Linked DNA regions of Homo sapiens. The protein of the gene in region 1 interacts with the protein of each later gene in a biochemical or structural test. Each region holds a gene or a part of one and is shown in the gene's direction. Other genes may lie near its edges.

What was found.
Region 2: of the proteins of PDC (region 1) and GRK2, one has a biochemical effect on the other in vitro, tested with the Homo sapiens proteins (one study listed by BioGRID).

Annotation. Positions count from the first base shown.
Region 1 is NC_000001.11:186,458,111-186,465,737, reverse strand, and holds the start of PDC (phosducin), read left to right. Parts: upstream 1-4,623; 5' UTR 4,624-4,679; intron 4,680-7,627. UniProt on the Homo sapiens protein: May participate in the regulation of visual phototransduction or in the integration of photoreceptor metabolism. Inhibits the transcriptional activation activity of the cone-rod homeobox CRX.
Region 2 is NC_000011.10:67,262,126-67,269,489, forward strand, and holds the start of GRK2 (beta-adrenergic receptor kinase 1), read left to right. Parts: upstream 1-4,347; 5' UTR 4,348-4,574; coding exon 4,575-4,687; intron 4,688-5,070; exon of another isoform or gene 5,071-5,700; coding exon of another isoform or gene 5,701-5,723; intron 5,724-7,364. UniProt on the Homo sapiens protein: Specifically phosphorylates the agonist-occupied form of the beta-adrenergic and closely related receptors, probably inducing a desensitization of them. Key regulator of LPAR1 signaling.

The DNA of each region.
Region 1 (7,627 bases):
TGCTTGAATCTGGGAGGCAGAGTTTGCAGTGAGCTGGGATTGCACCACTGCACTCCACCCTAGATGACAGAGCAAGAGTCTGTCAAAAAAAAAAAAAAAAAAAGAAAGAAAGAAAAAGAAAGAAAGAAAGAAAAGAAAAGAAAAAGAAAGAAATATGATCCCCAAAGTTGGAGGTGGGGCCTTACTGGGAGGTGTTTAGGTCATGGGAGCAGATCCCTCCTGAATGGCTTGGTGCCCTCCCAGCAGTAAGGAGTTCACATGAGATCTGGTTGTTAAAAAGTCTGGGACCTCCCTCCTGTCTCTCTTGCCCCACTTTCACCATGTGACACACAAGCTCCCCTTTGCCTTCTGACATTAATAAAAGCTTCCTGAGGCCTCACCAGAAGCAGTTACTGATGCCATGCTTCTTGTGCAGTTTGCAGAACCATGAGCCAAATAAACCTCTTTTCTTTATAAATTGCCCAGCCTCAGGTATTCCTTTGTATCTAGTGAAACCAAATGGACTATCATGGAAGCTTCCTTCAGTACAAATAAAAATTTCTTGACGATGGAGGATAATGTTCTATCCTCCATCTTTTGACAATATTTTTCAAAAGATGGAGGATAAAACATTAAATTGCTACTCCAGAGTTAATTCTGTCCAGCAAAAAAATAACCAGCCGGTAACAAGGATGTGTTGTAAACCTTCAAAAGGAAACAACTAAGGGACTTAAGCTACGAAAATAAAAGAAAAGGAAGGCTGACTACAGAAGAATAAGTGCTACAGATATATAGAAGGCAATAAGCATTACAGAAGGCAGGTGCCTGTAATCCCAGCCACTTGGGAGGCTGAGGCAGGAGAGTTACTTGACCCCAGCAGTTCAAGGCCAGCCTGGGTAACATAATGAGACCCCTTCTCTTAAAAAAAAAAGTTATATATTCTTTTGCCAAAGACTCTCTAAAATAAATAACATCAGGAGATAATAAAATTCTGACAATAACTATCTCCACATATTTTTAGGAAAGGAGAAAGATAAAGTGGCTGATGGTGTAACATCTCAGTGAATGCCCATATGATTTGTTAAAGGATACTATAAAAAGGTAGAAAAAAGGGTATGCAATCAAATATGATAAAATAAAATTAAGAATACTATAATCCAAAGTAAAATAGGTTTCAAAAATATGTTTGAAAAGATTTAAAATTATGCATATAGTAAGAAGACAATGAAGGAAGATATGTCTCCTCTTTACATGAGTAATAAATTGCTAAGAGAAAGAGAAACTGGAATTCTTACCTTGCTTTCCTCTTCTCAACCAAGAAGAATAAAATTCAGACAAGAAAGAGTAGAACGCATATTGGAAAAGGGAAATAAAATCCTAAACAGAAGAAATTACAGGACTATCTCATTCTGGTAAGTCTTTTCAGCAGTATGGTCTTGTTTCCAAACATGCCCTTCCAGCTCTAAATTTAATTCTGCTATTTGAAGACTGAGGGACATGTTTTCAAGTTCAAAGTAAGGAAAGGTTTATTTTTAGTAAAAACGATGTCTGCCACAGCGCCTGCTTCATTTACACCCTTTATTACTAAAAGTTCCCCAGCCCCTACTGAAAGGGAGCCCTATGTAGATCACATAACCTTGCCATCTGGCTAAAGCTGATTAGACCAAGGGTGTGACCTTGGCCAAATTATGCCAATGGCATAATGAAGCAAAATGGTTTCGGCTAAACAAATCATATTCTCCCAGAATACTCATTTGGAAACATGGAAATAGCCAAGCTGTTATCAATAGATGGGAGGCTTAAAAAACTTCTATAGATAGGTGTCTTGAGTAGAGTCAAGGCCATGAGGGGGGTTATGGAAAACAGAACAAATAAGAAAATATATATTGAGGAAGCACAGGCTGTAAAGTAAAGGTGATATGGAAGGCCTTAGGAAGAGTATTAACTAGTGACAGAAGATCAGCCACGGCGGGAGGAGCAGGGTTGGGGGCAGGCAGTGCATGCGGTTAGTGGGATGGAAAGCCGCAATCTTGGTATTTGAGCCCTACTGGGAAGATCAACAGACCCCTCCCAGCTGCTAAGGTGTTTACTCCAGCATTGTATCCTCCAAGATTTTGAGCTGACATTCCATTCTCCTAGGACTAGAGTGTATAGCTGTCCTTGAACTCCTAAGGAATTCATGGTTTTCTTTCAATTCTGTCCTTACAATTAACTTTCTCACGCTCAAAAAGAAAAAAAAAAAGAGCAAGTAGATATATATGACAGCCTTGGAACCAGAAGAATCTACACTGAAGGCTGTTTAGGATTTAAAGAAAATTCTGTAATTTCATCTTTTTAGAGCAGGTAATTTAATCTGCCCTAAACAGGAGACTTTACTGGTTAACAGTGTGGACCATGGAATTAAGTCATACCTGAATTCGAACGCTGGGGTCTGCATGGACATAATGTCAACATTTGAAACATAAAAACTGTTTTCTTGCTGCTGTATATAGAAGTACCTTGTCCACAGAAGAGTGCTTTCACACAGTAGGCATTCCACTAATATTGGGGAATAAATGCATCAGTTAGATAAGTTATAAAACTTATCCAAGCCTGTCTCCTCATCTATAAAATTATACTTGACCTACCTCAGGGGATTGTTGTAAAGATTATGCGAAGTAAACAATTAGTACCTGACCTGGCATGATGAGCACTCAGAAAGTGTCCTAATTATTAATATTTTTATTTCTGTTTTCTAAGATTATTTTCAGCTGGTTTATAATGTTTGTGCCTTGTAAAGTATTTAGTATTCTTAAAATTGGATGTAAAATCATATATAAAAATCTAAACACTATATCAACATATAATTCTAATACTTTTAAATGTTTTTACATCAATCAAGAATCATATGTGTGAAATAATGACCTTTTGGGCTTTGACTCTTGACAAGTTTTCATGATCTACAAAAATTACTCAATTCATAATTGAAGCAATTAGATCAGATATGCTTGTCCAAATTGTAGGCAAGTGTGTGATGTCCGTAATGACCCCAAATCCCTCCAGTGAACAGGTGCCAGAGATAGCACAAAATAAAAAGCAAATTATGGAAATATCTGTGTTGGGAAGGTGGGGGTAGGATAGGAATTGCTATAGTAATTTTTTTTTTACCGTTAAGTCTCTATGCTTGTGCCTATATTACATATTTGAACATATGAGTACCAAGCTATATTTGACAGTAACTTAAAACATATTTTTTGAATGTTAAAACCACTATGACATTTTTTATCATCAAACTGAAATATTAAATTTCTTCACATTTGCCATCAGAAGGCATCTTTTAAGTTACATTTGTATTGCACCTGACTACATTCTAGATTCTTTAGCTAGAGAGAAAACACTCAGTTCATAAAAACTGAAAGTGAATTGCCCTGAGAAACTCTGTTGAAAAGCATATGTATAGCACACAAACTGGAACATGAAACCTGCTAAATGGGAGGTAAAAATTTGATTTAAGGATGAAAATGAAAGTTAATTTAGAAAATACTTTGATTTCTGGAAGAATCTCTTTGAAAATATTTATGGTTGTGACTCTCTTAAATATTGTAAATTTTATGTACTCTTCTCTATTCTTGAAATCAAATTCTACAATAAAAAATATATAAGCAAACAAAGTTCTGAAATGTGACAGGTTTCCCTCTTACTAACAAAGAGTAAATAAATGACAAATTAATTTAGTATAATAAAACATAACTATTAAAATTTATTTAGACACTATCACTGTTTAAATTGCATTAAGATCCACTTAAAGTTTCTGGGTGAAGCTACATATGACTAAACCTTATAATTTAAAAATCTAAATGTGTTCATTTTAATTGCCATTAATATTAAAAATTTTGTCCTCTTGCTAATTAAAAATTTCCAGTTTTAAGCTTAGAGTAAATTAAATCTCCTACTTTGGCAAAGTTAGATGAGAATTTGGCTGTGAGGATGAAAGATGTTAGGAAAAGATGGAAGATTAAACACATGCATCTACTTCCCCTACATCTCAAAACTCCATTAAAAAACAGCAGGAAAGGAATTTTTAATGGTAAAAACCAGAAACAATAAGGAGAAGTGAAAAGGAGAAAATGCCAATAAAACTAGAATCCAGAAAGCAAGTAGATCTGTAAAGACAGCCCATCTGAAAAAATTGTATTAAAAGCCTGTAGTAAGAGAAGATGAAAATCATAGTATCTCTCTTATTCCTCCCAATGTTGTAGTAATCATAGCACTTCATTGTGATTATCTTTTTACTTACCTGTCTCCCCCACTAGACTGCAAGCCTCACGATATAGGAAATAGGGTTTATTTGTCTTTGTACCCTAGTGCCTAGCTACTGCTTGTTTCACACAAAGTAGGTGCTCAGTAGATGATTATGGGACTAATGAATACAACTCATGTTATTGCGATAAATAGTACTAATAATGACCTCTGTCTCTCATCTATTCAATGTGTTCTGTAAAATATAAACTGACTACTCTTTGTTTGGTTTTGCCTTATTATTAATGAACTGGCCTTGCTAATTCTGTCAATCCTATTACTTGTTCAGAGCTATTTCTGCAAGGGTCATCAATATCTGGAGATTTTAAATCTGAGCTTAAACCTATTGAAGTTCAAGACGAGTTCAGTAGACAGGGATTCTCACCCACTCAACAAGGACACCAGGCACAGAGATCCAAACTGTGAGTCCACAAGTAGTCCTTTTGATAATATAATTTTAAAAATTTTACCTTAGGGGAAAGAATGGTGATTCACTGTTTATGTATTATTGTGTTAATGTAAAATAGTTCAAAGTACATAAGGTTTTGAATTATCTACTATAAAGACAATTAAATACAGCGTATCCTTCTCTCTTTCAGTGATTTCCACCAGTCATCTTCACTAATACAGATTCAGAGTAAACACGCAATTTTGAGCCTGATATTCTAGACTGTTAAAATAAGACCATGAATGGAGAACTCATTTTGCAATTTTAAATTTCCTTTGAGTGAAGGGAGAACTAAAGAGAATAAATGATGAGTCCTTGCACTTTATGTTTGAAGATCTGGCTCCCAAGTTGGAAAAGGAGTGCGGTAGTTGCCCCTTATCCAAGGGGGATATGTTCCAGGACCCCCACTGGATGCCTAAAACCATAGATAAAACTGAACCTTGTGTGTATACTATGTTGTTTTCCTGAACATACATACCTGTGATAAAGTTTAATTTATAAATTAGACACAGTCAGAGGTTAACCATAATCACTAATAATAAAATAGAACCTTTATAACAATATGCTACCATCACAACACTTGCGCTTTGGGACCTTATTAAGTAAATAAGGGTTACTTGAACACAAGCACTGCAATAGTCAATCTGATAACCAAGACAGTAATGCATATGGTGTGGATATGGTATACAAAGAGATGTTTCATGTTCCAGGCCAGAGAGAGCAGGATAGTGTGAGATTTCATCAAGCTACTCAGTACACTGCAAATCTAAAACTTGCAAATTGTTTATCTCTGGAATTTTTCATCTAATATTTTTGGACCAAGGTTGACCAAGGGTAACTGTAATCACAGAAAGAAAAACCTCAGATAAGTGAGGACTGCTGTATTCATCCGGCGCTAAGGCATGTTTTGAGGCTTTTCCTTAGTAGTATGTTGTTGTGGCGGTGGTTTGTTGGTGGTTTTTAATTTTTAAAGTAGAAATAATGTTTGTTTTGAAAGGTTACTTTAGAAATTTAATGAAACAGAAATAATGTTTTTAAAAGAAAAGAACACAGAGTTTGTTGATATTTCTTAAATTCAGTGAAAATTTTCTTTCAATTGGTTTTTTTTTTTCTATTTTGTTTCCATGGAGGTTATTATTATTACTAATAAACCTTACAGTTTGCATCATGAAAATGAGTGCAGTAATTGATTTGCAATGGAGTATTTTTATTAACTGCAAAAATAGCTTCTAACTATAGAGTCCATTTTAAATATATATATATATATATATATATATATACACACACACACATATTGTCCATTGTACCTGCTACTTAGAATCACCTCATATTAAAGCTAGAAAAAACTTTAGAGATCATCTAATTCATCATGACAATTTCTGCCCAAATACTATGTTTATAAGTGGATTTGATATTATATAAGTCATTATCAAAATATATATGAACCATTCATAATAATGTCTGTAATGGAATTCAAACAATATGTACAGGAATATGTATATTTACAAGATAAACAGATACTTTAAAAAAGATGGCTGTTATGAATTTCTAAAATTCTATTTTCTCCAGAACAAGTAAAAGAATATCTGTATGTCTGCAATCCCGGCACCTCGGGAGGCCAAGGCTGGCGGATCACTCGCGGTTAGGGGCTGGAGACCCGGCCAACACAGCGAAACCCCGTCTCCACCAAAACCAGTCAGGCGTGGCGGCGCGTGCCTGCAATCGCAGGCACTCGGCAGGCTTAGAGCTTGTTAAAGATTCCTGGGTCCCACTTCAGATCTGCAAAGCAGGATCTTAGAATCTAGGGCCTGAAAAGGAGGAAGGGTCCTGGTAAATATCCCCAGGCTTTCTTTTTCTTTTTTTCTTTTTTTGAGTTGGAGTCTCATTCTGTCCCCCAGGCTGGAGTGCAGTGGCGAGATGTCGGCTCACTGCAACCTGCGCCTCCCAGGTTCAAGCGATTCTCCTGCGTCAGCCTCCGGAGTATCTGGGACTACAGGCACCCACCACCACGCCCGGTTAATTTTTGTACTTTTTGTAGAGATGGGGTTTTGCCATGTTGCCCAGGCTGGTCTTGAATTCCTGCGCTCAAGTGATCCACCTGCCTTGGCCTCTCAAAGCGTTGGGATTACAGGCGTGAGCCACCGCGCGCAGCCTCTCCAGGCTTTCAGCTGGGACCATGAAGGGCTCCACTCTTTGTGGTGATGATCAGAGGGGCGTATGCCCTCCATAACACTCCCATTCTTCATCTTTTCTCATATTCCAGGAGACTGGCCCAAACAGGACTGTTGAGTGGCTCTAAGGCTTTTAGACGTCAAAAGGGTTTATAAGAATAATCATCATAATATAGTTATGAATCAGAAACATGCATACATTTTCTTAAATGACCCTGTGGGGACTGGAGTTAAAAAGGGAGGAGTACCCAGATGCAGGCGTCTAGCAGAATGGACTTGCTTGAGAATATCAAGCAAGACAGCCAAAGAGGACTCCTAGGATTGTCTCACCAGGACTTCTGAGGCGACTCTAATGAAATGACTTAAAAGTGTGGTGGAGTGGCTTCTGTGGCTCCCACACCTGCCTAATCCTGGTTGATATTGCACAACCAGCGTGCACTGACAATCTCTGGGAAAAAAGCAAGGTCTAATATTCAAAGCTTGGCAAACATGACCAAGACTTTTTCTCTTTCCTTTGAATTATTTTAGTTCCCTAATTTTTTGTCCCAGATGCCACTTAATTCTTTTTATTTTGTATTAAAAGTTGTGCTCTTGTCTCAACCTTCTTTCTAAAAAAAAAAAAAAAAAAAAAAAAAGAATATCTGTATGTCATAATAGCAAACTTGGATAGGTGGATGTCTTTTCACTAGGAACAAGAATTCAGTTATGACTTTTAAAGCTCATATTTCCAGAGTAAATTTTTTTTTACTGA
Region 2 (7,364 bases), on another chromosome or scaffold:
TTCCCGCTTTCAATGAGATCAGCTGGGCTCTGCAGTGCCCTGCACATAAGGAGAACCCAACACTTGTCAGCGGCTGTTATCACGTATGGTTTGCCTCTAAGCTCCCCTCCTGTGTCTTCCCGTGTTGGATCCGCAACGCCAAGTACAGGTGCCTGGCATGTAGTAGGAGCTCAACAAATACTGTCAAATAATCGGGTGAATGAATCAACTCCCAGCATCCCGGCCAGAGCCTGACACTGTCTGGGGACCTGACATCAGAGGAATGGCTGTCCATGTTGGGGAGGAGTGTCCCCAGGTCAATCTGGCACACACCTGCTGAGGTCAAGGAAGCCCCGAGCTCACCCTCCTGCTCTGCAAAGCCCAGGCTGGAGGCGGAGAAGAGAGGTCTCAGCAGGACAAAATTCGCACTCCCGGGCCTTGGCACGTGCCACTTCCAACCTCTCTCATGCTCATGCACACAATGTCATGTTCAAGACTTTACCCAACCCTCCCCGACCCCTCCCCTGACCTTCTCCCGAGTGCCCTCACTTCCTTAAACTATAGCTCTTGCCAGGTTAATTGGAGATATGTGTTTAGGGGTTTTCTTCCCCACCAGACTGGGCTAACACTGAGTCTTGATTCTTTATGCAGCCCTTACCCTTACTTTGTGCTGGGGATGAGGGGTGCAGCAGTGACCAGGACAGAAATGCCAAGGGAGAGACCGCTGAGCAGGATATCTTCCGCCCACAAGGTGGCAGCACGAGGAGGAGCCTGCCACTCCGGAAGTGGGGAAGGGCAGTCCAGGCAAGGGAACTGTAAAGTTAAAGCCCCAGAGGTGGAAATGGACTTGGCTTGTTCTAGTGACAGAAGGAAGACCAGAGAGGCTGGAGACTAAGAGGAAGGGGAAGAATGGAAATTGCTGAGTTAGAGAGATAGGCAGGCACCAGTCTGTGCGGGTCTCATGGGCCACAGGAAGTGGGGTGGATTTTATCCTAAGTGCAGGGGCAGTCGTTGGGGGTGGGCTTTGATGGAGATCTATAGAAGCTCAACCCACAGGAACGGCAGGGCGCGCGGAGAGGAGGCTGGTGCAGGCATGCAGGCGAGAGGTGATTGAGACTCGGGCCAGGGTTTAGCAGGGCACAGTGGACGGATCAAGGATGTACTTCAGAGACAGATACGCCAGAGATGCTGTATGACAGCAGGGGTATACATCGGGGTGGGGGCCAGGTGAGGAAAGAGAGGAATCGAGGACAGCTCCTACATTTTGGGAAAATGGAGGATCCACGCCTGAGATGGGGAGGCGGGAGAGGAGCAGGTTGGACAGGGGCTGGGTAGTGGGAGCAAGAGCTCAGTGTGGGCCGCGCTAAGTTTGCAACATCTATTAGTCATCCAGTGGCGATGCCAAGTAATGATGTGTCTGTGGGGCTGCCAGCTGAGCAGAGATGGGGCTCTACTCCACTTTGCACTCCTAGCATCCTGGTCAGGGCCTGGAGCAGTCTAGGCACAGAACAAAGGTTTGTTGAGAGAAGGAAGGCCTGCCTGTGAAGGCAAGTTTGCAATCGACCTTCCTAGGACCAACAGAGGCAACACCGTCCCCAAAACCAGTCTTCCCCAGGCCTAGGGCTCACACCAACCTCTTCTGAACCTGGAGCTTCCTGAAGTCACTTTTCCTGGGCCCAGGAATCAATGAAGGGAGACCAGCCCCCCTCAAAAGACCCCAGCTTCAGGCCTGGCAGGGGGTGTGGATTGGGCTGTGGGTGGGAGGGACTGAGTTTTTAGGTGGGGATGGGAAGGTAAGGCCACCTCTTGGAACAGGATGGCTGGCATTTCAGAACTCACACACAGACTCTGGTCCAACAAGTTCATCAGGTAGAATTTTTAAAATAGAGGCTATTCCCGAAAACCCTGGCTGACATGTGGCTGTGCTCGCAGTCCAGAGGAGTCAGGACAGGGCTGTGGGGAGAGGAGGTTAGAGGCTTCATGTTGTGGCATCTGGCCTTGTTCCACCCCAAAACCCATGTGTTCCAAGAGCTCATTCACTCATTCATTCACTCATCAAACACTGATGCCTTTGAGTCGGGTCCTGTGGTGGGCACTGGGAGCAAAGGATGAACTAGGGGCACCAGTGACAGTGGGGGACAGTATGTCCTCTTTAAATATATATATCAGCATTTCCAACATCAGGATGCATTTTCCAATTGATGCTGACATGTAACGAGGCTTCACTCCCCACTGTCGAAACTTGCAACAATGCATCTTGCAACTGAAAATGGAAAACAGGGCCTAGAAGGTGGTAAGTGTAGAATTGGAGATGTACATAGTTGGGGTCAGGGAGTCAGGGAAGACTACCTGGAGGAGGTGAGTCTTAGCGGATGAGTAGGAGTTGTCCACGGAGGAAGGTACACAGAAGGGCTTCCAGGCCCAGGAAACAGCAGAGGCACAGAAGTGAGAATGGGTGGGTGAGTTGGTGGGGAAACTCCAGGTGCAGAGGATGGTAGCGAAACAAACTGGAGCATTCAAGGTCCAAGTCCTCCAAGATCTTGACTTGCAGATTAAGGAGTTTGTTCACCTAATCTGCTTTGGGCAGAGTGTGGTGAGTCCTAGAGACCCCTCTAGGTCTCTCACTCTCAGTAGCCCCAGAAGGCCTGGAGAGCTGCTTCTGGGTGCCAAGCAGGCAGTGACTCCATCAGATCTAGATTTGGGAAAAGCATCCCTGGTCAGGGCCTGCATCAGGGCAGTGGCTGGCCATGAGGACCCTGAGAAGTAGACAGATTCACGGAGATTCTCAGGAGGCCAGACAGGAGACTATGGTGACAAATTAGATTAGAGAAGGGGAGAGAATGAAGGAGCAGTTGGGGAAAAGAAAACTGAGGCTCTGACATGGGTATATGGGTGGCGAGTGACTCACCACCCACTGAGAGGAGAACCTCACAAGCTCTGACATGCTCTGGTTCCAGGTTCTGTTGGGGCTGATCCAAGATGGTAGCCTAGAGGTGCACAGAGATGGGGGCCTTGCTTTGCAAAAGGATGCTGGCTGCTGGCCCACAGCATGGTAATGAGATTTGAGCTTTATGTGCCCAGGGCTGGGAGGAGGGTCCTGTCACTTTGAAAGCAAAGAGAGGCTCTAGAGAGGGGCATGTTGAGATAGGAATGCTGCCTTGAGACACCTGGCTTTCCCCACTCTGGGTGGGCTCTCAGCAGGGTGGGTTTCCCCTGCCAGGCAGCACTGAAACCTCTGTGCGCTTCCGGGCTGGGAGAGTTTTTACCGTAACTACATGTGGAACCATCCTGAAGGAACATCTGGATGGGATGGGGTACAGGGAAGGGAGCTGCCAAGAGTGCTGGCCAGGGACCTGGGTCTATGAGCTGGTTGGGGGGTGGGGTTGGGTGCAGGGTACTTGATCCTGAGTGGGCCTTCTGCGGCCAGGATTGGTTCTAGAGTAGGAGGGGTGGGATCAGGGATGGGGGAAGCCTGTAACTGCGCTGCAGTTGTCAGGTCCCAGGTTCTGGGTGACCTACTAAGGATTCTGGGTCCAGTGTGGGTCCCAGGTTAGACGTCCTAGTCCTGAGTCCGTGTCCACAGTTCTGGGTGTTGAGTCTAGGACAGTGATCTGGAGTTGACAGTCCAATCTAGGTCTGAGTCCTGACCCCAAGTCTAGAGTTCAGGGTCATGGTAGTAGCCTAGGGTCAGAATCAAGGTTGGGGTCAGTAACCAGGATGGGATCGAGGTCATGGTCCAAAATCTGGATCTGGGGACCTGTTGGGGGTCTGAGGTGAGTGTCGCAGTCTGGGTATGGCGTTGGAGACCCAGGGCTGTGATCTGAGGTCATGGTTAGAGTCTGAGGTGGTGGGCCAAGGTTTGAGTCTGGGGTCCTGTTTGGAGTCTGGTGTCAGGTCGTGGACTGCGTCCAAGGTCAGGGAGTCCGGGGTTATAGCCAGGGTCTGAGATGAAAGTCCCAGGATGGTGTTCAGAGGTCTGAATCTGTGTCTTGGTGAGCGTCCAGGTTCCCTGTGATCACGTTTGGTGTCAGGGCTGCGGCCCGACTGGGGAGCCTGGGATCCAGAGATGTGACCCGAGGTTGTGGTCAGAGAATGGGTCTCGGGTCGTCTTCCGTGCCGGGTCCCTGTCGTGTTCCAGGCCCGGGTCTCCGTCCAGCATCGAGGGCCGAGGTCACGGCCAGGGTCTGAGCCCGCGGTCGCAGGTCTGGTTCGGGGTCAGATTCCGCGCGGCCTCCAGGGGGCGCCGTCGCCCGCCCGGCTCGGCCCCTCGCGGGCTCGCTGGCGTTGTGCGCGGCAGGCGGGGCCGGAGGCGGCGGCGGCTCCGGGGCGCGGGCGCGCGGGCGGCGGCGGCGGCGGCGCCCCGACTGCAGTCCCGGCGGGAGCGGAGCGCGAGCCGGGGCCGGGCCCGAGCCGGCGCCATGGGGCGGCGCCGCCTGTGAGCGGCGGCGAGCGGAGCCGCGGGCGCCGAGCAGGGCCAGGCGGGAGGCGTCGGCGCCCGAGGCCGAGCGAGCCGCGGCCGGGCCGGGCCGAGCGCCGAGCGAGCAGGAGCGGCGGCGGCGGCGGCGGCGGCGGGAGGAGGCAGCGCCGCCGCCAAGATGGCGGACCTGGAGGCGGTGCTGGCCGACGTGAGCTACCTGATGGCCATGGAGAAGAGCAAGGCCACGCCGGCCGCGCGCGCCAGCAAGAAGATCCTGCTGCCCGAGCCCAGGTGAGGAGAAGCTGCCCGCGGCCCCGGCCCGACCCCGCGGGCGCCCCGGCCGCGGCCCCGAGACCCTGGCCCCATGCTCGACCCCGCGACCTGGACCCCCGGGGCCGGCTCTCGCAACCCCCTGTCGGCCCCCCAGCCCGGAGCAGCCCGGCCTTGGCGCCTGCGGGTCCAGACCCTAAGCCCCAGACCCTGGGCGCCTGAGCCCGGAGCGCCCCAACTCCGGAGCTCCTCTGCCCCATCGGTCCCCGGACCCAGTCGGGTCCCCCTGGCCGCCCTGCTGCTTCCTTATCGTGCTCCACCGGCCCCCCGAAGTCGCTGTCAGCCCCTGGCTCCCGCCTTCTCCCACGGGGGCCCGGCGCGCCCCTTCATCCTTCTCGGAGCAGCCCTTGGTCCCTGTGGGGTCCCCTCCCCTCCGCTGGCCACCATTTACCTCGCCTGACGATGTCACCCACCCTTTTGCTGTCCCTGCTCACGGCACTCGCTTTAGGGTTTCCACTACCCCCACCCGTCTCTCCTCCAGTCTACACTTGTGTGAGGTGTTGGGGGACAGCCAGTCTTCCGGACTCTTCTCCCACCCTCTGGTGGGGTCGCTGTCCTGGAGTTGGGCTCGAGAGTGCTTTCAGGGCGGCGTGGTGAGCAGGACCTAGGGTGCTGCGGGCACCCTCCCCCTCGGACCGCGCTCAGGTCGGGGAAACATCCCCTGTGCCCTCTCCCCTACATTTCTCCTCTGGCAGGCCCTGCATATGGTGCCCCGTGGGTGCTGTTGACCAGGGGCCCTCCCAGCACACCTGCAATGGCTGGACCTTAGCTGCCGCCTCTGTAAGACAACTGACATCACACCTGGTATCAAAGTTTAGACTGTTCAGGATGTAGGTGCAAAAGTACACAGGATGTGGACGATTGCTGCGGTTTGTCCAGCATTTTATGGCTGATAGAGTATCTCTCCACTGTGTGAGCCTCTCAGCAGCGCATGGGGTGGCGAGGACAGGTGTGGTTTTGTCCCTGTGGAACAGATGGGGAAACTGAAGCTCCAGAGGTGAGTGGCCTGCCCCGAGTCACACAGGTAGTCCCAGGTGGCACCTGGCCAACAGATCAGGGCTTCAGACTTCTGGTTCTACATTTCATCAGCTACCCTGGCCTGTGCCAGGGAGCAGACGTGCCCGCCACGATTCTTTGTGTCGTGTGGCAACTCCTTGTGCATGCCTGAGAGTTGGCCTCCTCCTGGTGCCCCAGCGGGCTGGGGATGGGGCCTGTCCACACTGCCGTGGTCTTATCTTGTGACTCTGGGTAAGTCTCTTCCCTCACTGGGCCTCGGTCTTCTCATCTGTGAAATGTGGATGGCGTGAAATAAGAGCTGTGACTCTGCGGTGTCCCTCAGCCTTTGAAGCAGCCGTCTAAGCTCTGGCTGACGCTGCAGGGGTGCCCCATGCCCATGGCCCTCACCGCCCCCCTGTGCCATGCCCTGCTCACTGGGTGTTTGGATTGACTGAACGTCAGGCCTGGGAGAGGAAAATTGGTCTGCATTTTGAAAAGGCCGTTAGGGCCTTTTTTTTTCTAAGACATTTGCAATCAGATTTCTCAAAACAGGAACCAGACTGACTGTCAGCTGGGGGCTGTCCAGGGAGCAGTGACGGTTAGTACAGAAATGAGTTCAGAAATGACAAACCCACGAGGGAGGAAACGGGGGAGTCAGCCTCTAGGGCTCAAAACGGCTCTCCTTGGTGGCTGCAGCCTCGAGACCCTCCTGCAGGATGGAGTTCTGCAACTGTGAGGCGGGGCCTTTTCTGGAACTGTCTGCGTTCGGGTAATCTCCCCCCAGAATGCATTGCTTCTGATGGGGCGCCGCCTTGGCTCTGCAGGTGTCAGAACCCTGAGAAACGAGATGGTCTTCTTTTCCTGTCCCCTTTCCCATCCATGGTAGTGATGGCGGTGATAGCAATAATGATAGGAATTATTACTGACTTACCTATTTTGATATCTGTCATCTCAGTTCTTCCAGCAACCAACCTGTGAAGCTGGCAAGGCCATGCCTTGCATGTAGTAGTTGCTCAAGAAATACCAGGACTGTGTGGCACCCCCATGCAGTCCTGAGCAGAAACAAGGTTGGATAGGATTCTAGGAGGACAGCAGGAGGCCGAGCCAGGCAGCCCAGGTTTTCACATTGGGTCACCATCAGCAGCATGGCCTTCCGCAAATCGCCCACATCTGTGAAACGGACTGGAGGTGCGAGCGCCGAATGTCAGTGCGCTAAGGCCTGGGAAGGGCTACTGGCCACCCCTACATGGGGGTCCAGGCCTGGGGCATTAGGGAGCAGGCCACCCTTTGCATAACGCCTTGCCTTGCACACCCAGTGGGGCAGAGCACGCCGCCCCCCGCCCCCCGCCGCCCCAGTGGTGATCCTGACCATGTTTCATGTTTGCCTGACACTTTTCCACTTGCAGAGTGCTTTTTACTCTGTTTTGTCCTTTTGACAACTGTGAGAGGCAGGCCCAGCAGTTAGGATTCTCCCCTTTAGCAGTTGAAGTTATTGAGGCTCAGGGAGGGGAGGAGTCGTGTCCTCGTCACAGAAGAAAGCTGGAATGGGGCCTCGGGTTTCTGGACCACACAGGCCAGTGCTGTTTCTTTGCTGTGCTTTATCCCCTCCACCCACCCCTGCACACCACTGTTCTCGCCTCTG